Linked DNA regions of Homo sapiens: region 2 is linked to region 1. Evidence: fine-mapped expression QTL. A gene starts in region 1. The other region holds a variant in brackets. All regions are shown on one strand. Distances are between the middles of the regions. Region 1 holds the start of CACNB1 (calcium voltage-gated channel auxiliary subunit beta 1). Region 2 overlaps LRRC3C (leucine rich repeat containing 3C).

Region 1 (11,213 bases):
GAAGGAGAATCGCTTGAACCTGGGAGGCAGAGGTTGCGGTGAGCTGAGATCCTACCACTGCACTCCAGTCTGGGTGACAAAGTGAGACTCTGTCCCAAAAAAAATAAAATAAAATATAAAGAGTAAATTAGCTGGGTGTGGTGGTGCACACCTCTAATCCCAGCTACTCAGGAGGCTGAGGTGGGAGAATCACTTGAGCCTGGGAGCAGGGGTTGCAATGATCAGATGGCACCACTACACTCCAGCCTGGACAACAGAGCAAGACTGTCTAAAAAAAAAAAAAAAAGTCAACACAATTGTGTTATCATTAATCTGACGCAGGAGAAAAGAAGGAAGTAGGGTGAAGAGACAGATCCCAGGTACTCACGGGAGTTGGCATTGGCGATTTCATTGGTCTCATTGGGGTCTAACCAGACCTTCTTCTTGCCACAGCGGAGGACACTAGAGGCGAGCCTCTTCTGAAGCCTGAGCATACTAGACACACAGAAAACATGATTAGACTCTGAAAGCCAATCCTGGGCAAGAATGAACGTCCCCATCAAGACCTGCCCTTTGTGACCCACACCACAGCCGCGAAATAAGACTCTTCCCTAAATCATCTTTAAGGCTCTGGGCTATGCAGCTGGCCCCCTTGGGTTTAAGACTTCAAAACCCACGCTATGCCTTCACCTCTCGGAGCCTCATGTTCGCATTTCTCCTCTGGAAAGTCAAGCCAAGGACTTATTGGATTGAATAGGGGGGTTATGCCATTTCTGGTACTCAGCGTTTAAAGAATATTCGAGGTGAGTAGACCTGATTTCTAGTCTAGGAATGCAGGCAAGTTACTCTGTTTTCTGGGCTTATTTCCCTGTTTTATCACAGTAACAAGCCTCGTTCGGCTATTCGCAGAGATTTCCTTTATGAGAGGCCAAAGGAGTGAATGGAGTCAAGAGTTAGAGATCACCTCTCTCGGCAGTCGGAGGCCTGGGGCCTACACTAGGCTTGCCCTACATCACGTGAAAGCAGAGATCGGCTCCGCTCCGGGTGTGCCAAGCAAGAAAGGGCCCACGGCTTGGTCTTGTTCGCTCCGTTTGCTCTGCTCGCGTGGGTCGACCGGACACGTGTGCGGTGCGGCACCAGCCGGGGCAGACTTTTCCTGGTCTCAGTTGCTGCGACGCTCCCCGCCCCCCCTCACTCCGGAGGCCCGGGACGAAAGTGCTCCGGCCTACCCCAAACCCCGGGACCGGCCGCTTTAGGGCGGCCTCCATTTCATCTCCCCCAACCCCAGCTGCGGTCCCAAGACCGACAGTCCCTTGTCGACACGCGTCAGCGCCTGATGGAGACCAGCTCGCCCTCACCTCATGGCTGCGGCCGCAGCAGCGAAAGGAAAGAGCTCGCTCGGGCCCGGCTCCTCCCATTATCTGCGAAGGGGAGAGCCCAAACCCTGCTCCAATTTCGTCCGTATTCCTGTCCGGTTCTTTCATCTTCTGCCACACTAAACTCACTCATAGCCTCCATATAGGCCTGAAATGATAAAAGTCAAATATCAGAAATCGGTTTTAAACTTAAAAACATAAAAAAGTACCCCTTCCGTAGGGAAAGTGGTATAGTCCGACTTCCTACTAGACATGCGCAGCAAGGGTTCCCAATCACGTGGTTATCTGTAACCGGAAGTCAGCTGGATTGCGCAGGCGGAGTGAGAGAGGTTTTGCTAGAGTGGCCTGGTGTTTGCGGGCGTTCGGGGGGTTGTGGGTGGATGTTTTATTAGCTGAGAAAAAATCAGTTAAAGAAGCGAGAGAGAATGACAACAGATATCAGACAAAGGCGAACTCTTATTCACTCTTGTAGTAGATTGAAAACCCCTGGAGTGCAGAATCGATCACTAAAAGATGTTAGTGTTTTTACGCCACTGCGGGTCTTGCAAGCTCTTGGAGGGCGGGAACTAGTCTCAGTCTCATTTGGCTCACAACTGTACTGCGGCAGGCATGGATCCGCGATCGAACACACCTCAGAAATACCGCACTGGCTGAATGGATGAATGATTGCAGAAAGTAAAATTAAAAAAAAAAAAAATTGGGTTGGGCTCGATGGCTCATGCCTGTAATCCCAGCACTTTGGGAGGCCAAGGCAGGCGGATCACTTGAGGTCAGGAGTTCGAGACCAGCCTGGCCAACATGGTGAAACCCTGTCTCCACTAAAAATACAAAAATTAGCCGGGCGTAGCGGCGCGTGCTTGTAATTCCAGCTACTGGGGAGGCTGAGGCAGGAGAATCGCTTGAACCCAGGAGGCGGAGGTTGCAGTGAGCCGAGATTGCGCCACTGCACTCCAGCCTGGGCAACAGAGTGAGACTCCGTCTCAAAAAAAAAAAAAAAGCAGTCCTTTTCTTCTGATCTGGAACACCCAATGTAAAAATCCAAGAAGAACATTCTGGGGTTTAAGAAGTCTACATCTGAATTGAGGCTCCAACTCATGATTGGTTCCTGCTGATCACCCTATCCGTTTCATCTCAACTTTCCTGGCTGAGAAAGTAGAAGAGAGAGAAAGGGAAGCAACATTTATGCTACTTCCTCACAACAACACGATTAGCGTTGCCCTCATTTTACAGCTAAGGTAACAGATTCAGAACACAGATATTTCTGATTGCAAAGCCCATACTTTTGCGGTTATGCCAGCCTTTCTTGTCTCCAAGGGGCAGGTGGAAACCCTGCTCAGGGTTGGAACTCTCCTGGAACGTTTCTAATGGGCTTCATCTTCACTCACTGCTCCGCCTTCCCCAAGGTGTTGTGATCAGAGGAATGACAGACTGACCATTCACTTGCTATTAGAGTTGGGTGAGGAGGAGGAGTCCCATAGTCTCCTGTCCTGCGGAACACAGCAAGGTGGTGGCCTTATTGTAAGGTCACTTGACCTGGAGAGGGTCTTCTCCATCTCTCCTTTCTGTGGAGCAGGAGAAGGGGTGGAGTAGGAAGGGAATGGGTCCTCCTGTCATGAGTGACCCCTTCATTGAAACTTACAGCTTCTCCAAACACCCCAGCAATTCATTTAATTCTCCCTCATCCTCCCAATAATACCAGGTGACACAGACTCCACAGTACCAGCAACCCCATTTTATAGGAGAGGAGGAAACTGATGCTCAGAGAGGTGATTTGTCCGGGGCTATACAACCAGAAACAGCCTGAGCCAAATTGGCGCCAGAGTCTATTGCCCAGAATCTCCTATTCCTCTTCTCTCCACCAGTCATGGTGGGTGGCATCCAGATCTTGGATGTTTCTCCCTAAATCAGGGGTAAAGGTGGCGCAATTCTAGGTCAAAGGTCATGAGATCTGATTTTACCAGCTTCTCCTCTCTCAGCTCCATATTTCTTCCTCTTTTCTCATCCAAGAGCAGGGACCTCACCCAGCCCCATTCCTGGCCTTTTGGAAGAACAGGGGTTGGGGGGGCGGTGTATCCTAGTGACTGATTAGGGCAGAACTCCTGGACCCCTGGGATTTATTTTGCTGTCTCTATTGGACACCCTCCCCATCTCAGCCTCAGCCTCCCACCGGCAGCCCCAGAGCCATGTTGGAGGGAGAGGCTTTTCTGTTTGGTTTGAGGCAGCCTGGGCCCCACACTGGGGAGAAAGGAGTTAAAGCCAGGTCCCAGGATCACCGGGACCGGGAAGTTCCGGTGGTCCAAACAGGAGTGGGTTGGGGGGACCCGCAGGAAGAGAGGTTTGGGACAAAAGGGGGGTGGTGCCAGCCATGCCAATCCCCATCAGCGCTCGGCATCCACTGGTAGACCGCCCCCCCACCCCTCCCCCAAGTTCCACGCCTAGTTTCTGCCTTCCCGCCCCAGCGGGCCGCCTGCACCCCACGGCCAGTCAGAGGCCCACCTGCGGCCACCTAGAGCCGAGAGGGGCTTGCCTCCCTGCTGCCGCACGCCCATTGTGTGCGCCGAGCCGGCGGAGGGGCTGCGAGGGGCGGGGCCGGGCGGGCGGAGGGAGGGAGCGAGGGAGGGGCGCGGGGAGATGCTGAGCCTACGGGGGAGGCGGCGGCGGCAGTGGAGAGAGCGGGAGGAGCGAGGGAAGGCAGGAAGGAGGCAGCCGAAGGCCGAGCTGGGTGGCTGGACCGGGTGCTGGCTGCGCCGCGCTGCTTTCGGCTCCCACGGCCTCTCCCATGCGCTGAGGGAGCCCGGCTGGGCCGGGCCGGCGGCGGGAGGGGAGGCTCCTCTCCATGGTCCAGAAGACCAGCATGTCCCGGGGCCCTTACCCACCCTCCCAGGAGATCCCCATGGAGGTCTTCGACCCCAGCCCGCAGGTGAGGCGTGGTGGCCCGGCCCAACGGGAGGGGGTCGCTCCCGCGGACCGTGTTAAGGTCGGCTCGAGAGGCGCGGGAGAGGAAGGGGTTATATGCCGGGCGCGGAGGAGAGAGGGATGCCTGCGCGCCCCCCATCCTTGCAGGTTGTGATTGATGGGCGCTGGGCCTGGGGCTGGGTGGCGATGCTGCGGAGCGGGGAGGGGGCGGGTGGGCTGCCTGTCACCCTCGCCTCCTTATCTCCCCCGCGTCAAGGTTCCTGCCGCTTGGGCACCAGCTTCAGTGGGCTGAGCGTGGGGGTGCTGGTGGAGGGGGATCTGGGCCTTGAGAAGGGGAGGTTGAAAGAGGCTAGAAAGCGAGCCAGGCAAGGGGGGCGACGCAGAGCACGCTCGGGGGCGCCAGGCGGGTGTGGGTGGGGCGGGGGTGGCACGAGGAGGTGGCCGAGGCGATGGTCAGAGGGCGGTGCCAAATGCCAACAGGCCTTCAAAGCCGCAGACACTGGTTCTCGAGGGTGGGGAAAGAGCCAACCCCGGTCGAGGTCCCCTCCCAGCCACCTGGGCTCCATCTCTATGTCGGACCTGCTCCCCTCCCCCCACACCCACGTTGACTTACCCCACCCCCACCCCCGCCCCAAAAACGCCTCCAAAGTTTGGAAAGTTGGATGGATGCCAACTCATAGGAGGGGGGGAAGCTGTTTTACCTGGGGGAGGGGTCTACTTCTCCATCCCCACCCGCACACTTTTCCTACACCCCTGGTTACTCCCAGGAAGTGGCATTCTTGGGCGCGGTGGGTTCTCATGGGGTGACCAGCAGGCTCTGGGATGGTCGCGCCAGGGGATTTCTTTGGGAGTGTCCTTCTCCAAGGATAGCATTAACTCTTCTGTTACTGTGGCCACCAGCTGTAACCACCATGATAATGTGACTGATGGGTATGTAGAGGGGTCAAGTCAGACCTAAAAATACCTTCCTCCACCCCAGGCCCCTTTGAGCCTGGGAGGCAGCTGACTGGGGCCTTCCTTTCAGCTGTCCCCTGTCCCTCTGAGTGCCACTCCCTTTGCCCAGCCTGGCAGTGGTGGGGGAGGGTGGTGTCTGGGATTCACTGGGTGATCCTCCTAGGTTTGTAGGGAGCATCACAACTTGAGTTGGGGTATATGTCTGGTTTGAGAGAAGGGCGGGGAGGGGAGGATCTTGGAAAGGTCCCCAGGGGCCCTCCTCTCCCATTTTCCATCCTCTTTCTTGTACCCTGATCCCAGCAGCCAAAGCCCCCAGTCTGGTCATGGCCCCTCCAGGTTCTTTGGCCAAAGAAAGTCTAGGATGGAGACCAAGGGCGGGGACTTGGAAGTCTGAGCCCTCACTCACTCTCCCCATTCTGAACTGGGCTGAGGCCAAGTGTGTGTGGGTACAAGCTGGGGAGGGCCAGAAGCAGCTCTTCTTACAAGAGGACTGGAAATACCTGACGCCCTTAACCTGAACGTGTGGCTTCCTGAATGGTCAGGCGGTATTTCCTCCACCCGGTCTCTGAGACTGAGCCAGCTTACCCCCTAGAGATCTGTGGGGCTGTGTCCTAGGCTCATGTGGTGCGGGGCCGAGGGACATTTAGATTGACGTAGCCTGATGGGTACCATGGGCATGGGGCATGGGCAGTGGCAGCTGGGGGCCACAGGGTAGAAGCTTGATCCCTCTTGCCCCCTTGGGGAGGATTGTAGCTACTGTGATTGTGAGAGAGGGAGCTGAGAAAAAGTCCTGTCTGGGCAAGGGATGAGAGTGGGGAGCAAAATTTGCCCCCATGGTGCCAGGGATCAGGCTGGATGTTTACTCTCCAAATACAGTTCCATGCCCCTACTCCCTCCCCAGAAATCTGGCTCTGAGTCTCCAAGAGAGCTGTCATCCCCTCCCTACTCTGTGAATAGCGAAGGGAAGAGTTGGGCACAGGGGAGAAGCCAGGCTGGGCCCTGGGTTGGCAGTTCCTCCTCTCTGGGGGCCACCAACACAAACAGCCCTGCTCTGCTCCTGCGGAGGGGGAGTGGGGGTGACTTTCCCGCTCTCCCCACCCAACACCCAGCACTGCCGGCTGCCTCTCCCTTCCTCGGAGGCCTCTGCAGCCTGCCCAGCATCTTAATTAGCTCTGCTGCCTAATGAGCCTCCAGCTTCTCCGCGCCTCCCCCCTTCCCAGCCTCTCTGGCTTGGTTTGGTGGTTTCCGTGTGGGTCTTCTGGGGCTCTCTTGCACTGGTCCCCACTCCTGGCTGTGCTCTGGGCCCTCTCCGTGAGGATGGGAGACCCTCCCTCCCCTTGGGTCGTACCACCTCAGGAGGAATGTGCAGGGGGGTGGAGGTGGGGCTGGGAGTGCTGTTCCCAAGCTTGGCTGTAGCTCTGGGGCTGGCAAGATGAGGGTTGGGAAAGGGCCCTTCTGATTCTACTCTTGTTCCTTTCCTGGCCTCTTCAGGGCAAATACAGCAAGAGGAAAGGGCGATTCAAACGGTCAGATGGGAGCACGTCCTCGGATACCACATCCAACAGCTTTGTCCGCCAGGTAATGGGGAGGCTGGGCGGAGAGGAGGGAGGTGGCTGGTTGGTGGAGACCAGCATTGGTGAGCCAGGTCTGCGGTATTGTCCAGGCACCCTTCCCTGTGCCATTTGTCACCTGCCTGGAGCCACCCCATCACCCTGACACCCCATGACCTCTTCTGGATGTGCTGTCAGCGGCACCCACTCGCTCAGCCCCCGCCCCTGCCCGGCCCCTCCCCCAGCACCAGGCACCCTCCCCTGCTGCCTGCTGGCCTGCGTCATCTCATTCAGGGACAGCCTGGCCTGCCTCCCTCCAGCTTGCTTCGGGCTGTCACCCACTCCCCCTGCCGGCTGTCTGCTTCCATGTCCTCCCCCAGAATCTGTGACAGGGTTGGGTGGAGGCAGGTCCTAGGAAAAGCAGAGCAAGGATGTTTGGGTCCCTGTAGTCCTGGTGAGGTCCTGGCCAGGGAAACACGCTCCTCACCTCGAGACATGACTGTCTAAGAAGCACAGAGAAAGGGTGATGGTGACGGGGGTGGGGGTGGTTGAGGCATGAGGCTGTTGATTTTATAATAGAGAAGATGATAGCCCAGCACCCCTGCCTGAAAGGGTGTAACTGAGAATAGCTTTCTGGGGTCTTCTGTGCTCAGTCAGTAAGCGGCTGCTCTCATCTGTCAACCCTGGGCCATCTTAGGCTCAGGGTGAGGGACTGAGAGAGGCATGTGGTTGCTATGACTACTTAGCATCTCACCAAAGCCTGGTACCCAAAAAAGGCGAGAGGGGCTTGGGATTAGACAAGGAAAAGGCGTGTATTGAAGAGGAAATGGGCAGGGCATTTGAGGGCAGAAGACAGCACAGAGGAGGGGTCCTCTGGAGATGAGCCCCTCCCTTCCACCTTGGGCCAGGAGCGAGGGTGATGCCAGGCAGATCCACCACTAATTAGAGTGAGGCCCTTCTTTCCGTTTCTTCTGTCTCTACAGCACTTGGCACATGTGAGCCTCAGTCTGACTTGGGAGGTTCAGGAAGGGGAGGCTTCATTCTAGCCTTTTCTAAGTATAGGAACAGACAGGAAGTCCTTTCTTCAATCACCCCCTCATCCCTCCTGTTGCAGGACATGGCCAGGGCTGGGAAGAATGACGCTGTGCTTTTATTGCCCCTCTTGGCAGAAAAGGACCTTGGCTCCTTCAGTGTTTGCCAACCCAGGGAGTCAGACCCCAGCCTCCAATTCTTCCTCCTTTTAGCTCCCCAGCTCTGATCCCCGGTAGGTGGTGGGGAGTGGTGGAGGGGGGCAGTCCTTGCCACATCTCTGAGCTAAATATACCCTAGCAGTCTGCACATGTAGCAACTCTGCTTGTAACCCGAGCCCCCAAGGGAACGGGCAGTTTGGGCCACCCCCTAGGCCAGCAGGGCCAGGCACTGAGGGTGCCGGGATGGAGGCGCCCAGCCGGACCGTGGTGGTGGTGAGCTGGGGATGGAGTGGGGTGGCAGCGGGTAGAACAGCCTCTCAGGAAAGCTGACGGAGGGCAGCCTTTACTCCAGCGTGTCTCCATGCCTCCTCACTGTTTCCTGTCTTCTGCCATTTCTGATGTGTGCGTGTGTATGCGCGTACATGTGTCTGCATATGTGTGTGTATGTGTGCGCATGCCTACATGTGTGTCTGTGTGCACCTGTGTGTCTGCATATGTGTGTGTGTCTGCCCGCACATGTGCGTCTGCATGTGTGTCTGTGTGTGTGCATGTAACTGTGTGTGTATGTGTACACGTGCGCGTGCCTGCATGTGTGTTGGGGTCAGTGAGTGTGTGCGCGCGTATGCCTGCATTTGTGTTGGGGTTGGTGAGTGTGTGTGTGCACGCGCATGCCCGCGTGTGTGTTGGGGTCGGTGAGTGCCTCTCTGCTAGTCTGTCTCCCTGTCTGTTTCCCTGGCTCTTTGACTCTGCGTGCTCCCATCAGGGGGGAGAGGGGGAGCTACGCTGGTTTTCTCTCCTTCTCTCCTTCATGCCTCTTTCCCCACTTCTGTTAGTGACCCCCGCTCCACCCCAACCCTTCCTCCGCGGGTCTCCCATTTTCATTATTTGTCTGGGAAAGAGATGGGCAGCTGCACCAGCTAATGACCTGAGGCCCCTGGGGAGAGGTGGGACTTTGTTTCTGTCTTTCCCAGGTCCCCTCCATGCCAAACTTATGGACCTTCCTGGCCAAGTGACCCTTTTCTGCCCTCAGGAAAGAACCCCTACATCCCTGCAGTCCTCCTCTTTTGCCACATAACCTCCTATGCCTTGTCCAACACCACCCCTGCATAGTCACACAAATCCACACCTCTTGCCTCCTGCCCTCACATGTCCCCCAACCTCAGGGTCACAGATGTCTGGGAGCTCCCCCCCAGTACACTCACATGTGGCTGTACACACACAGTCATATGCAGCCAACTATAGAGCACACCCTCCTCCACACACTTGTACTTGCACATCCACACACACACATGAAGAAGCACGTGCATTCCCACTACCAGGTCTGTACGGGCAACATGTGTCTTACACATATGTGTGCATCCCTAAAGGAGTCCCTTGTGCTCTGGGTTGGTCATTGTGGTCAAAGCCAGCTGTCTGGCACCCAGCAGCCCTCATTTCAGGGAAAGCCCTGTCCCATATCCTGCTCTTAACTTGCCTCTTCGGTCTGTACCAGCCTGGAACTCTTGGGTTCTCTTGTGTCCTAGGAGAGCCTGAGGACTGGGGCTGTAAGTAGTGAAGTTTGATTCTGGCAGTACCAGTTAAGAGGAGCAGGGGAGGTAGGAGTCTGTCTCCCTCTACCCTTGAACAGAAGCTGGCAAAATCTGTGGTGGCCCCATCCTGCGGAGCAGGCCGTCCACGGCTGATAGTGCAGAGAGCTCAGGCCGAAGCTGGTGGCTGCAGTCCCTGGAATGGATGCCACTGGACCTCAGCTGAGTCTATCTCAGCGGGTGCTGGGGGCAGGGGAGGGAAGGAGCAGTGGGAGTAGAGACTCGTCCCTGGCATTCCTCCCTTGCCTTGTGCCCCTATCAGGTTCCCACCCCTCCCTGGGCCCCAAGCAGCTGTCCTTGGGCCTGCCTTCATCTCCTGCTTGCTGCTGTCACCCTCACTAGGGCCACACTTTCCCCAGGGGCCTGAGAAATCTCAGCTCCTGGTCCCTTCCACCTAATACCACCTTGTCTTAGCCCTTGTGGTGTCATGCTGGGCTGGCTGGGGCTCGAGGCATCCATGATGGGTGGCACCTCCATGCCTTCCCAGGCCCAGGAGCTGGGAGGGGCAGCAATGGCCCTGATCTGGCTCTCTCTATTTTCAGGGCTCAGCGGAGTCCTACACCAGCCGTCCATCAGACTCTGATGTATCTCTGGAGGAGGACCGGGAAGCCTTAAGGAAGGAAGCAGAGCGCCAGGCATTAGCGCAGCTCGAGAAGGCCAAGGTGAGAAAGATGTGGGGAGGGGCTGTGCTGGCATGATTTCCCCCAGTCCTGGGCTGTAGAGAGAGCCCAGACAGAACCAGGGCCAAGTCTTGACCCAGCCACTTCCTAGTACCCCTGAACCTTGCTCCTCTGTCCTTCACCTGCACAATGTGGGCTATAATACCTGCCTGCTTATACAGTATAATAAGTATAATAAGTGCGTGTTATTATACTGTTTCCACACATAATAAGGGCTTGATAAGTGCTAAAAATTTCTTTTTTTTGTTTTTTGAGTTGCAGTCTTGCTCTGTCACCCAGGCTGGAGTGCAGTGGCATGATCTCGGCTCACTGCAAGCTCCGCCTCCCGGGTTCACGCCATTCTCCTGCCTCAGCCTCCCAAGTAGCCGGGACTATAGGCTCTGGCTGCCACGCCCGGCTAATTTTTTGTATTTTTAGTAGAGACGGGGTTTCACCATGTTAGCCAGGATGGTCTCGATCTCCTGACCTTGTGATCCGCCCCCCTCAGCCTCCCAAAGTGCTGGGATTACAGGCGTGAGCCACCGTGCCTGACCTGGTCCTGACTCTTAATAGCTGTGTGATCTTAGGAAAGTCACATTAAAAGGAAGATAATAATACCACTTAACTTCAGAGGATTTTTTATTTTTGTGATGAATATAAATGAGAGAATATGTGTTAAGTGTGTAACATGGTACCTGGAACACTAAATGGTCATTACTGTCATTATTGTTTTTTTTAATTTAATTTTAGGCCAGGTGCTGTGGCTCACGCCTGTAATCCCAGCACTTTGGGAGGCCCGGTTGGGCGGATCACTTGAGGTCAGGAGTTCGAGACCAGCTTGGGCAATGTGGTGAAACCCCGTCTCTACTAAAAATACAAAACGTAGCTGGGTGTGGTGGTGTACGCCTGTAATCCCAATTACTCGGGAGGCTGAGGCACCAGAATCGCTTGAACTAAGGAGGCGGAGGCTGGAGTGAGCTGAGATCGCACCACTGCACTCCGG
Region 2 (11,213 bases), 740 kb before region 1:
CCCAGGCTGGAGTGCAGTGGTGTGATCTCAGCTCACTGCAACCTCAACCTCCTGGGATCAAGTGATTCTCCTGCCTCAGCCTCATGAGTAGCTGGGATTACAGGTGCCTGCCACCACGCCCGGCTGATTTTTTGTATTTTTAGTAGAGATGGGTTCCTTGGAGGTAAGAGAGGTTGATGATGGCAGATTCTCAGAGACCTAAGGCAAAATCATTTCTAGCAGTTTGAACTCCCTTTAGTCCAATGGGGGAGGCAGTCCCTCCCTTTGGAATAAGCTCCCCGGGTTGCCTCTCGCTTTGATGCCCCTCACTCTGTAGGAGACCTCAGTCTTAGAGTTGCGCTCTCGAAGCCTCTGTTTGTGAGCCCAATTCAGGAAAGGGTGGGGCTTCACTCCCCCTCAGCTGGGGGCTCCCTCAGGGTACCCTTGGCTTTCTCTGCCACTCCAGGCCTCAGCTCTGTAGGGCAGGAAGAAGCTGGTGGTGGACGGGCTGTGTGGGCCTGTAATCGCCCAAGGGGTTCACGTTGCGTGCTGCCTTGGGTGATCCACCCACCTGAGTCAGTTCGGGCCTGGCGCGCTCACGCCTGTAATCCTAGCACTTTGGGAGGCCAAGGCGGGCAGATCACGAGGTCAAGAGATCAAGACCATCCTGGCCAACATGGTGAAACCCCAACTCTACTAAAAAATACAAAAATTAGCTGGGCGTGGTGGCGCGCGCCTGTAGTCCCAGCTACTCAGGAGGCTGAGGCAGGAGAATCACTTGAACCTGGGAGGCAGAGGTTGCAGTGAGCGGAGATCCTGCCACTGCACTCCAGTCTGCTGACACAGTGAGACTCCATCTCAAAAAAAAAAGAATCAGTTCAAACATCCTACAGCGAAGCCTTTGAAATCGCCCTGGGCCAGGTGCAGGCTCCCTCCTCAACCTGCCCCCCCACAGCCCCTCCTCCCTTGCTCCCACCCCACCTGCTGTCATTCTCTGTTATGGGTTTTCTGAGTCTAGCACAATCCAGGCACAGAGTAGGCACCAAAAAACTCCAGGCACCAAAGATGGTGTTGGTTAAGACGACACAGAGAGAGAGAGAGAGAACCAGCACAGGTATTTAGGGGGAATAAAGGAGGGAGGGGTGGGATGGGCTTGGGGGCAGGGGTGAAGCTGCACAGGAGGCAGAGGGGGTCAGAGCAAAGGAGAGGGCATAGGGGCAGGAGTGTGGGGTGTGGCTGGAGGAGCATCCTGGGTCATCAGACCACTGTGCTGAGGATGGAGGAGTCCTCGGAACGCACGGGCAGCACTGGGGCCCGCTTGAGGGAGCGCCTGGTCTCATCTCGGTTCTGCCACACATAATGCACCAGATAAGCCACCATGAGTGTCAGCCAGCCCCCCATGGTGACCAGCAGGGCCACATCGGTGCTCCTCCGGGCCCCACCCCACCCCGACCCACACAGCTCTTCCTCCCCTGCCAGCAGCAGGAACTCCTGCCCCACGAGGTCCGGTCGGGCTCCTGAGCCACACACGATGCCTGTCCCAGTGCCCGGCACCAGCCTCACCTGCCGGAGCACTTCCTGGAGGGCGCAGTCACAGTGCCATGGGTTTGCGGATAGGTTCACTTGGATCTGTAGCCCCACAAAGGCCTCCACGGGCACTGAGGCCAGCTGGTTGGCAGAGAGGTCGAGGTGGCGCAATGTGCCCTCCAGGCCCTGGAAAGCCGCCCCTGAGAGGTGGGCAAGGGCATTATGGGACAGATCCAACTCCTCCAGGACAGGCAGGTGCTGGAAGGCACCAGCAGGCACCGATGCCAGCTGGTTGGCATCCAGGTAGAGCTTGCGGGTGTCATTGGGGATGCCGGAGGGCACAGCACTGAGGCCTGCCTGGCTGCAGCGGAACGTCCGTTCACCTGCTTCCTTTGCCACATAACAGCCCCGGGGAGGCACCTGGGGGCTGGGCACAGTACCCCCTGTGCCTATCACCAGCAGGAGGGGCAGGAGGTGACCTGCTGTTGGGAGCATGGCCATAAATTGGCATAGTCCTGGAGTGCAGTAGGATCTGGGGAAGGAAAGGCCACATAAAGGAGGAGTGAGTCAAGAGAATCGCATGCCCCACTGCCAGCTTTCTCCTCCCGAGGTCCCTCTGGGGAGTCTTTTTGGGCTGGGGCCTCTTCTCTGGGGGCTTCTCTCAAGCCTGGGTGACTTTTTCACTTCCTTATTGGGGTCTCTCTTGATTTAAGTCTCCTCAATAGGGTCTTTTGGGTAAAGGGTCTCTTGCACTTGAAACTCTTTTAGGGTCTGTTGATTCTAGAAGGTTAATCTGTGAGGCCTTGTTGGTCATTCTGGGTCTGGGGGTTTCTAAGTTTCTGCCTCTGTCCATGTGTTGATTTCTCTCATTGGAATAAAGTCTTCTTCCCCTACCTACCTGGGTGGCTGCCAAGTGGGCTAGGTAGGCACCAGAGGGTCTGGTTGGCACTCGCGTGATGGAGACAAGGGGACGGATGAGCGACAGGGTGTCAGGGCATCCAGCTAGGCCAGGTGACTAGGTAAAATAGACCTCTGGCCCCACCTTCTATGCCCATCTACCCCTTTTCCGGGAGCATCCACCCCTCTGCCTGCCCCAGCTCTGTCCTCTCTGCTCTGTACTTCCTCCCTCCTCCTCCCCGTCCTCCTCCATTCCTCTCACCCCTGTTGGTGGCAGAGCCTTCTCCAGTGCAGATGCCCTGTCCCTGGACGTAGGCTCCCTGCTGCTGGGCTCTGGAGACCCGCTTCCTCCTCCAGAAGCCCTGTTTGCTCGTAGCTGCTGGAAGTTGGGGGCTGGGACCCAAGAGTGTTGGGTTTCCTGGCATGTGACTCTGGGCCCAGGTGTCGGATACCTGAGCCATGGTGTGGCCAGGCAATGCCAAGAGAGGGCAGATCCTGGACCCTGATGAACTCTGTTGTGGGGAGACCAGGACCCAATTCCATTCCCTGCACCAGGCTCCCCTCCCAAGGCCTTGATGCTGCCATCTTCCCTCACTCCCCAAGGCTGAAACTGCTTCCCAGAACTCCTCTTCCTTACCCAGAACCTGGCTGGGCAGAAGGATCCCTGCTTGGCAGGCCTGGCGGGCAGAACTGGGTGGGCCCCATCTCACATCCAGTGTCTCCAGCAACCTGTATTCCCCCAACTCCATTCCTCTCCCTACTCCCTTCTGCCATTCTTTCACGCCATGGCACATTCTTCCATGCTCGGTGGCCCCTTCTTCCACGGTGAGCAAACTTCCCCTAGTCTTTCCTTGGAAAACATGTCTGTCCAGGGTTCCTCATTTCCTGGCTCCTCGCAGTGCCCAGACCTCCTGCCTGCCAGGGGTGCTGTGGTTCAATTTCAGTTTGTTCTCTGCGTGGTAGATTGATTGCTTCTCTAGGAGTTGGAAGGAGTTCTTTAAGGCACCTGAAGCCTGATGTGGTCATCTCTGAGTTTTCCTGCTGATTTTATGATCTGGATGAGAACTGACTCAGGTTCTCTCAGTTTGCTAGAGCCCTGGACTCTCAGGTTGGCACTTTGAACTCTCCCTCAGGCCTGGGCACCAAAGATGGCTTGGATGACTTGTTCCCCCAGGGTGTCCCTATCCCAGGCATCATTTGCAGGCCACGCCACTCCGTGATACCACCCTCTCCTAATGTTCACTGGGTAGTGGGAAGGAAGGATTTCAAGGCAGAAGATGAGATTAGTGTGTGACCTGGGCATGTCACCTGACACTGCTGCAGGGTTGGGAGGACCCGCCAGGGTTGAGTGGATGTGAAGGTACTTTGTGAAGTGCTGTGCAAAGGCTAGTTGTTAGGATTACTGACTTCCAGAACACATCATGGTCTTCCTCCATGATTTCATTACCCACGCCAGGCTTTTCCCCTTCACCTCCTCTCGTATGCTGTGCAGGGGCAGAGGTGACAAAGGGTCATAGATGTGATCCATGTGGATGACCCATCTCATTCCTTAGCCCATGGTGGCTTATCCCCTGCAACTCCCTTGACCCTCAAGTCCAACCACATGGTGCCTCCTATGGCACCATCCTACCCACACTATCTCCAGTTCGGTGCTGGGATTCAGAGCCTCAATGATTGATAGAGCTCAAAGGAAGGGACCAGCCAGTTGATCCCTCCTTAGTTTGCAGACCGGTAAACTGAGGCCCAGAATGTGACCAGAGTTACACAATGAGTCAGTGGCCAAAGACCAGAGCCCAGTTTTCTAACTCCTTGTCCAACCACTTTCCATTGCCTGCTAGCAGCTCTTACCTCTGTGCCTCTCTGCCACACATACCAATACCCTACATCCTTGCACGTTGAGCCTGATGGTACCCACGGTATTGTATTGTACGGAACCTGGAAGCCCTCCTGCCAGGTCAGAGAGGTGGAAGAGAACAGGAGAGTGGGGTGTCACAGAGACTAGGGGTGGATATACTTACACGAAGGAAGATGAGGTCATACGCATTGGAGACCTTTCTGAGAAGGATTTTTCTTGCTGGATTTTGGAAGACTATGGGTGACCAGGACTGGACACGGAATTGTAGAGCTGAGTGCAAAATAAAAATGGGGTGTGTGTGGGGGGGTCCCTTGTTTCAAAAACCTGTTAAGAATTTCTTCCTTTTTTTTTTTTTTTTTTTTT[A/TA]GATAAAGTCTCACTCTGTGGCCCAGGCTGGAGTGCAGTGCCACAACCTTGGCTCACTGCAACCTCTGCCTCCCAGGTTAAAACGACTCTCCTGCCTTAGTCTCCCGAGTAGCTGAGACTACAGGTGCCTGCCGACCAAACCCGGCTAATTTTTGTATTTTTAGTAGAGACAGGGTTTCACCATATTGGCCAGGCTGGTCTTGAACTCCCGACCTCTAGTGATCCACCCACTTCGGCCTCCCAAAGTGCTGGGATTACAGATGTGAGCCACCACACCCAGGTGAAAACTTAAGAATTTCAAGGCCTTGCCAGGTATGGTGGCTCACGCCTGTAATCCTAGCTCTTCGGGAGGCCGAGGTGGGTGGATCACTTGAGGCCAGGAATTTGAGACCAGCCTGGCCAATGTGGCGAAACACCATCTCTACTAAAAATACAAAAAATTAACTGGGCTGAGGTGGCACACACCTGTAATCCCAGCTATTTGGGAGGCTGAGGCACGAGAATCACTTGAACCCAGGAAGCAGAGGTTTCACCGAGCCTGGGTCGTGCCACTTGACTCCAGCCTAGGTGACGCATTAAGACCCTGTCTCAAAAAAAAGAATTTCAAGGCTGGGTGCAGTGGCTCATGCCTATAATCTCAGCACTTTCGGAGGCCAAGGACCAAGGAGCCTCATGAGTTTGAGACTGGCCTGTGCAACATAGTGAAACCTCGTCTCTCCAGAAAAAAAAAAAAAATTGTCCAAATGCACTTTCTACAAAAAGAAAAATAAATTAGCAGACCATGGTGGTGCATACTTTAGTCCTAGCTACTCGGGAGGCTGAGGTAGGAGGATGGCTTGAGCCTGGGAAGTGGAGGCTGCAGTGAGCTGTGATTGCACCACTGCACTCTAGCCTGGGTGACAGAGTGCGACTCTGTCTCTAAAAAATAAAAATAAAAAAGAATTTTAAGATGACGACAGCAGCAGAGTGTAAAACCAAGTGCAGAGCTCTTGTGAGCACAGGGCATGAGGTCTTGTGGGACCTCGTCAGCCGCATGCCTGTGAGGCTGGCCCTGTAGGTTACCTTTGAACAAGCAGTTTCAGAAGCATGATGGGGACCAGACCAGATGGTAGGATGCCAGATGATATCATCTCTGAGGATGTACTCACCACAGACTTATTCCTGTGATGTCAACAGGGGAATTTTGCAGACTCACATTTGTCTAAGGAATCAGATAACTTTCTACACTTAGGCAGGAGAAGCAACAAGCAAACCTTTTCTCTGAGGGCCGGACACTCTGCTGCTGGCTACTTGGTGTCCATTTCGGGACTGTAGCTGAATGTGGGACAGAAAGCTGAGCAATCCTCCCTTTCCCCCTGTTCCTCTCTCACACTGGGCAGGGGCTTTAACTGAGGCACAAGAATTGAGCCTGGCTGTTGATGGAGGGTTATTTCCTTCTAAGACTAGGGCAGCTTCCAGGAAAAGAGTGGAACTAGGGTGTCCAGCACAGCAGCTGTGGGAGAAGCAGGAGCCCAGCTGGAGCTGCAGATGTGGTTAATTAAGGGAGTCTGAGTGCAAACTCGGTGAAGGAGGGAGATCTGGGGGGAAGGAGGAACCACACTTAGGACAGTGCACACTGCCCACTAGGGGCTGCAGAATTGGAGCAGAAATTCTCTGCCATCCATTTATTTGTTTATTCATTCAGTGAGGATTTCCTGTGAGCCTTATGTGCTAGTTGAAGGGGACATAGACAGGGTTCTTAAGGTGCTGGGTCTATGGCAGGGTTCTCAAAACACCCTGCACATTCAAATCACTTGGGGAGCTTTTACAGATTAGTTATGCTGGGGCTTCATCTGGACCAATTACATTAAAATCTCTGTGCATGGGGTCTAGGCACTGGTTTCTTTCGAAAGCTCCTCAGGTATGTCTAACGAGCAGCCTGAGTTGAGAATTGATGGTCTGGAGGGAGGCACAGACATGTCTCCACAATGCTTTGATGTGCTGCCTGCATTAATTGATGTTTGTACAGGGAGCTGTGAAGCACAGAGAGAGAATAAGTATTAATAACATGGCAGAATCATCCCTTCCCTCCTACTACCAGATTAACACACATGGCTTTGGGAGTGGCAATGCACTCAGTCCTTGATGATTCAACCTGATTGATCTCAGCCCATCAGAAATCCTGTTGCCTACTTCTTCAATCTCCTTTGCAGCTGAGGGTGGCCCAATTCTGGTCAATGACATCTAAGCAGAAGTCCGCAGAATAGGTTTGTGGGACAGTCTTTGATTTGCTGGTAAGAGAGGATAGGGCTGGGCTCTGCTCCTCTCCCTACCTTTTTTTTTTTTTTTTTCTTTGAGATGGAGTCTCTCTCTGGAGTGCAGAGTCTGGAGTCTCTCTCTGAGTGCACCCAGGCTGGAGTGCAATTGCATGATCTCGCTTCACTACAACCTTCACTTCCCAGATTCAAGTGATTCTCCTGCCTCAGCCTCCTGAGTAGCTGGGATTACAGGCCTGCATCACCACACCCAGGTAATTTTTGTATTTTTAGCAGAGATGAGGTTTCGCCATGTTGGCCAGGCTGGTCTTGAACGCCTGACCTCAGGTGATCCACCTTCCTTGGCCTCTGAAAGTGCTGGGATTACAGGTGTGAGCCAGTGCACCAGCCTTTTTTTTTGAGAGAGGGTCTCACTGTGTTGCCCGGGCTGGAATGCAAACACAGCTCACTGCAGCCTTGACCCCCTACCAAACTCAAGCAATCTTCCTGCCTCAGCCTTCTATGTAGCTGGGACCACAGACATGTGCCACCACAACCAGCCAATTTTTTTTTTTTTTTTTGTAGAGATGAGGGTCTCACTTTGTTGCCTAGGCTGGTCTCAAACTCCTAAGGCTCCTGCCTTGGCCCCCTGCAAAAAGTGCTGGGGATTACATGCGTGAGCCACCGTGCCTGGCCCCTACTTTGAACATGAAAGGGTCAACTCAGGCCATCTCGTGGCCATGAGACAACAAAGCATAAAGGGAGGGTTGAGTATTACTGAGATGTTGGCCTGGAAATCGCTGAGCTACTCAACCAACACCAGCAACTGCCACCTCTAGACTCAATACGTGAGAAAGAAAACCCCCTAACTTCAGTGCTTCTCAACTTGGCTGCACACTGGTATATAGGCAGTTTTGAAAACTGCTGATGCCTGGGTACACCCATGTGGCATGTGTCTGGTAATGGAGATTTTTTTTTCTTGTTGAGACAGAGTCTCACTCTGTCGCCCAGGCTGGAGTGCAGTGGCACCATCTCGGCTCACAGTAGCCTCTGCCTCCTGGGTTCAAGAGATTCTCCTGCCTCAGCCTCCCAAGAAGCTGGGATTACAGGCACACGCCACTATGCCCAGCTAATTTTTGTATTTTTAGTAGAGACGGGTTTTCTCCATGTTGGCCAGGCCAGTCTCGAACTCTTGACCTCAGGTGATCCACTTGCCTCAGCCTCCCAAAGTGCTGGGATCACAGGAGTGAGCCACCGTGCCTGGCCAGGTGATGGGAATTTTCAAAAGCTCCTCAGGTGATTCTAATGGCAACCTAGGGTAAGAATCATTATTTGGGTTTTCTGTTGATTTCTGCTGAGAGCATCCTTAACTGTACACTAGCTTTTCCAGGGTATAATCAAGGAAGGCTTCACCAAGGAGTGACATTTGATCTGGGCTTTCAAGGCTGGGTTAATCAGGTGGAGAAGCAGAATGTGCAAGAGCAAGGGAGCATGAAATGGCTTGGCTTCCAGATCACTGCGTGGATGGAGGGGGTGGTGGCAAAGGCCAGGGGTAAAGAAGTAAAAAGGGAGCAGATCCTTGTGGCTTGCACGCCATGGATGCATTGGGACTTGATTCCGTGGCTTATGGATTAAAAAGGTTTTATTTAGTTTTTATTATTTTATTTATTTATTTTTTTGAGACGGAGTTTCACTCTTGTTGCCCAGGCTGGAGTGCAATGGCATGATCTCAGCTCACTGAAACCTCTGCCTCCCAGGTTCAGGCGATTCTCCTGCCTCAGCCTCCGGAGTAGCTGGGATTACAGGCACCCGTCACCACACCCGGATAATTTTTGTATTTTCAGTAGATACGGGGTTTCACCATGTTGACCAAGCTGGGCTTGAACTTCTGACCTCAGGTTATCTGCCTGCCTTGGCCTCCCAAGGTGCTGGGATTACAGGCGTGAGCCACTGCGCCCGGCCTATTTATTTATTTTTTTTAGACAGAGTCTCACTCTGTCACCCAGGCTGGAGTGCAGTGGCTTGATCTCGGCTCACTGCAATCTCTGCCTCCTGGGTTCAAGCAATTCTCCTACCTCAGCCTCCTGAGTAGCTGGGATTACAGGCGTGCACCACCATGCCCAGCCAATTTTTTTTATTAATGTTATTATTTTTTTAATAGAGACGGGGTTTTACCATGTTGTCCAGGCTAGTCTTGAACTCCTGACCGCAAGTGATCCTCCAACCTCAGCCTCCCAAAGCGCTGGGATTACAGGTGTGAGCCGCTGTGCCAGGCCAAATTTTTATTTTTATTTTTTTCGAGACGGGGTCCCACTCTGTCTCCCAGCCTGGAGTGCAGTGGTGGCATCACAGCTCACGGTAACTTCAACCTCCCCAGGCTCAGGAGATCCTTCCACCTCAGCCTCCCAAGGGATTACAACCAGAGGTGCATGCCACCATGCCCAGATATTTTTTTTTTTTTTTTTTGTATTTTTGTGTAGAGATGAGGTTTGGTCATATTGAGCAGGCTGGTTTCAAACTCCTGGGTTCAAGTGATCCACCCTCCTCGACTTCCCAAAGTGTTGGGATTACAAGCGTGAGCCACCGCATCTGGTCGGATTGAAAGGTTTTAAAATTAGATTTGATGTCTGGATCACTCTGTTGGTTGTGTCGGGGATGTATTGGTGGCAGGAAAACCAGTTATGGCAAAGGTCTAGGTGTGAGATGATAAAGACCTGAGGGACACATGGCATGGGTCTGGAAAAGCCATCACCGGGGAGTCTCACGCTCTGTCTTGGCCTGTGAAGTGCCTGGGAAAATTCTCGGGCTAGGCCCAAGACCAGCAGATGTTTATGCCACGGGGCACATCCTTTCTGTTTTCTGGACCCTCACAGTCTCTGAGATCCCTTCTAGCCTGATGCTCCACGTGTCTAGAATGGCAGGCAGGGAAGAGACTGAGGCATGGCAGGGCCCTGGCTCCCAAGTTCAGGGCTCAGGAAAGTGAGCCTCTTAGCCTCCCACCCTCGGCAGTCTGAGTCACAGCTCCTCCCTCCAAGGGTGGTAACTCTATATCCCCAATATGTGACCACAGGGGAAAGAAGTTCAGCAGGCCTCCATCCCCTTCCCTCCCTGATGTTGGAGACCTCCAGGTCCAGCCTGGATGGGGGGATAACTGAAAGGAAAAAGATAGATAGATAGGTAGGTAGATAGATAGATAGAGAAGATAGATAAGGAAGGGCTACCTTCTTTATCAGGTCAGCCAGGGACCCGTCTAATGCCAGGTTACTGGGCAGTTTCGCGGAGAGGGCAACAAAGGCCTCTGCTATTGTTGTTCCCTGTAGAAAAGAGCAAGGGGTGTATACATACACTTCATGCTGCCATGCTTGGAGATACTGTCTCATTTACTTAACACATATCTGAGCATGTACTGTGTACCAGGGCCTCTTAGGCATTGGGGATTCAGAGTTGTTTTTTTCTTTTGTTTGAGACAGGTCTCGTTCTGTCATCCAGGCTGGACCACAGTGGCATGATCACAGCTCACTTGCAGCCTCAACCTCCTGGGTTCAAGCCGTCTTCCCACCTCACCCTCCCAAGTAGCTGGGACTACAGGCGCACACCACCACACCCAGCTAACTTTTGTATTTTTGTGTAGAGCCACCGCGCCTGGCTGAGAACTAAATGTCCCCCAGCCAATGAGGGAAGACTGGTGTGTGCACAAATATAGCCCTCCGATCACCTAAGGGAAGGCTTGGGTTGAGGGATCCGCCAGGGTCACAGCAGCCTGGAGGATGAAGCAGTGGACTCTGCTTGGACACTGGGGAAGGCTGCACCGAGAAGGTGACAGGTGAGGTAGGCCTTGAGGGGTGTATAGGAGTCCATCAGATGGAAAAGGGTACGAGGCTGAGGCAAGAACAAGGGAGAGCTGTGTGGCTGTGGTCTGGGACGTGCAGTTCTGTCAGAGGCGTGTGAACCAGAGCAACTCCGTCTTAAATAGAAGCTGGGTAAAATGAGGCTGAACCCTACAGTTAAGGCATTCTAAGTCACAGGATGAGATAGGAGGTCGGCATAAAATACAGGTCATAAAGACCTTGCTGATAAACCAGGTTGCAGTAAAGGAGCTGGCCAAAACCCATCAAAACCAAAATGGCAATGAGAGTGACCGCTGGTGGTCCTCACTGCTACACTTTCAGCCGCGCCATGACAGTTTACAAATATCATGGCAACGTCAGGAAGTTACCTTAAATGGTCTAAAAAGGGGAGCACGAATAACCCACCCCGTGTTTAGCACATCATCAAGAAATAACCATAAAAATGGGCAACCAGCAGCCCTCGGGGCTGCTCTGTCTGTTGAGTAGCCATTATTTTATTCCTTTACTTAA

What was found. PIP is the estimated chance that this variant, and not a neighbour inherited with it, causes the effect.
Region 2: its variant is fine-mapped to the expression of CACNB1 in whole blood (INTERVAL, PIP 0.94).

The regions. Positions count from the first base shown.
Region 1 is chr17:39,190,474-39,201,686 of GRCh38, reverse strand. CACNB1 (calcium voltage-gated channel auxiliary subunit beta 1) reads left to right here and starts at 4,018. Exons shown (of 14, transcript NM_000723.5): 1 at 4,018-4,275; 2 at 6,717-6,803; 3 at 10,094-10,213. The coding sequence starts at 4,192. RPL19 (ribosomal protein L19) reads right to left here and starts at 1,404. Exons shown (of 6, transcript NM_000981.4): 1 at 1,338-1,404; 2 at 368-474. The coding sequence starts at 1,342. It overlaps LOC124903996 (a long non-coding RNA gene), which reads left to right and starts at 473. Exons shown (of 2, transcript XR_007065745.1): 1 at 473-782; 2 at 889-1,532. RefSeq lists silencers at 3,721-3,850, 3,861-4,260, 4,691-4,820 and an enhancer at 8,334-8,834.
Region 2 is chr17:39,934,758-39,945,970 of GRCh38, reverse strand. LRRC3C (leucine rich repeat containing 3C) reads right to left here. Exons shown (of 4, transcript NM_001195545.2): 2 at 10,077-10,169; 3 at 4,422-4,528; 4 at 972-2,038. The coding sequence starts at 4,447. The coding sequence ends at 1,237. Among named protein-coding and RNA genes, the nearest start is that of LRRC3C, 13 kb to the right of the region's middle. RefSeq lists enhancers at 7,465-7,514, 7,525-7,644. The variant A/TA (reference allele first, on the strand shown) is at 4,622.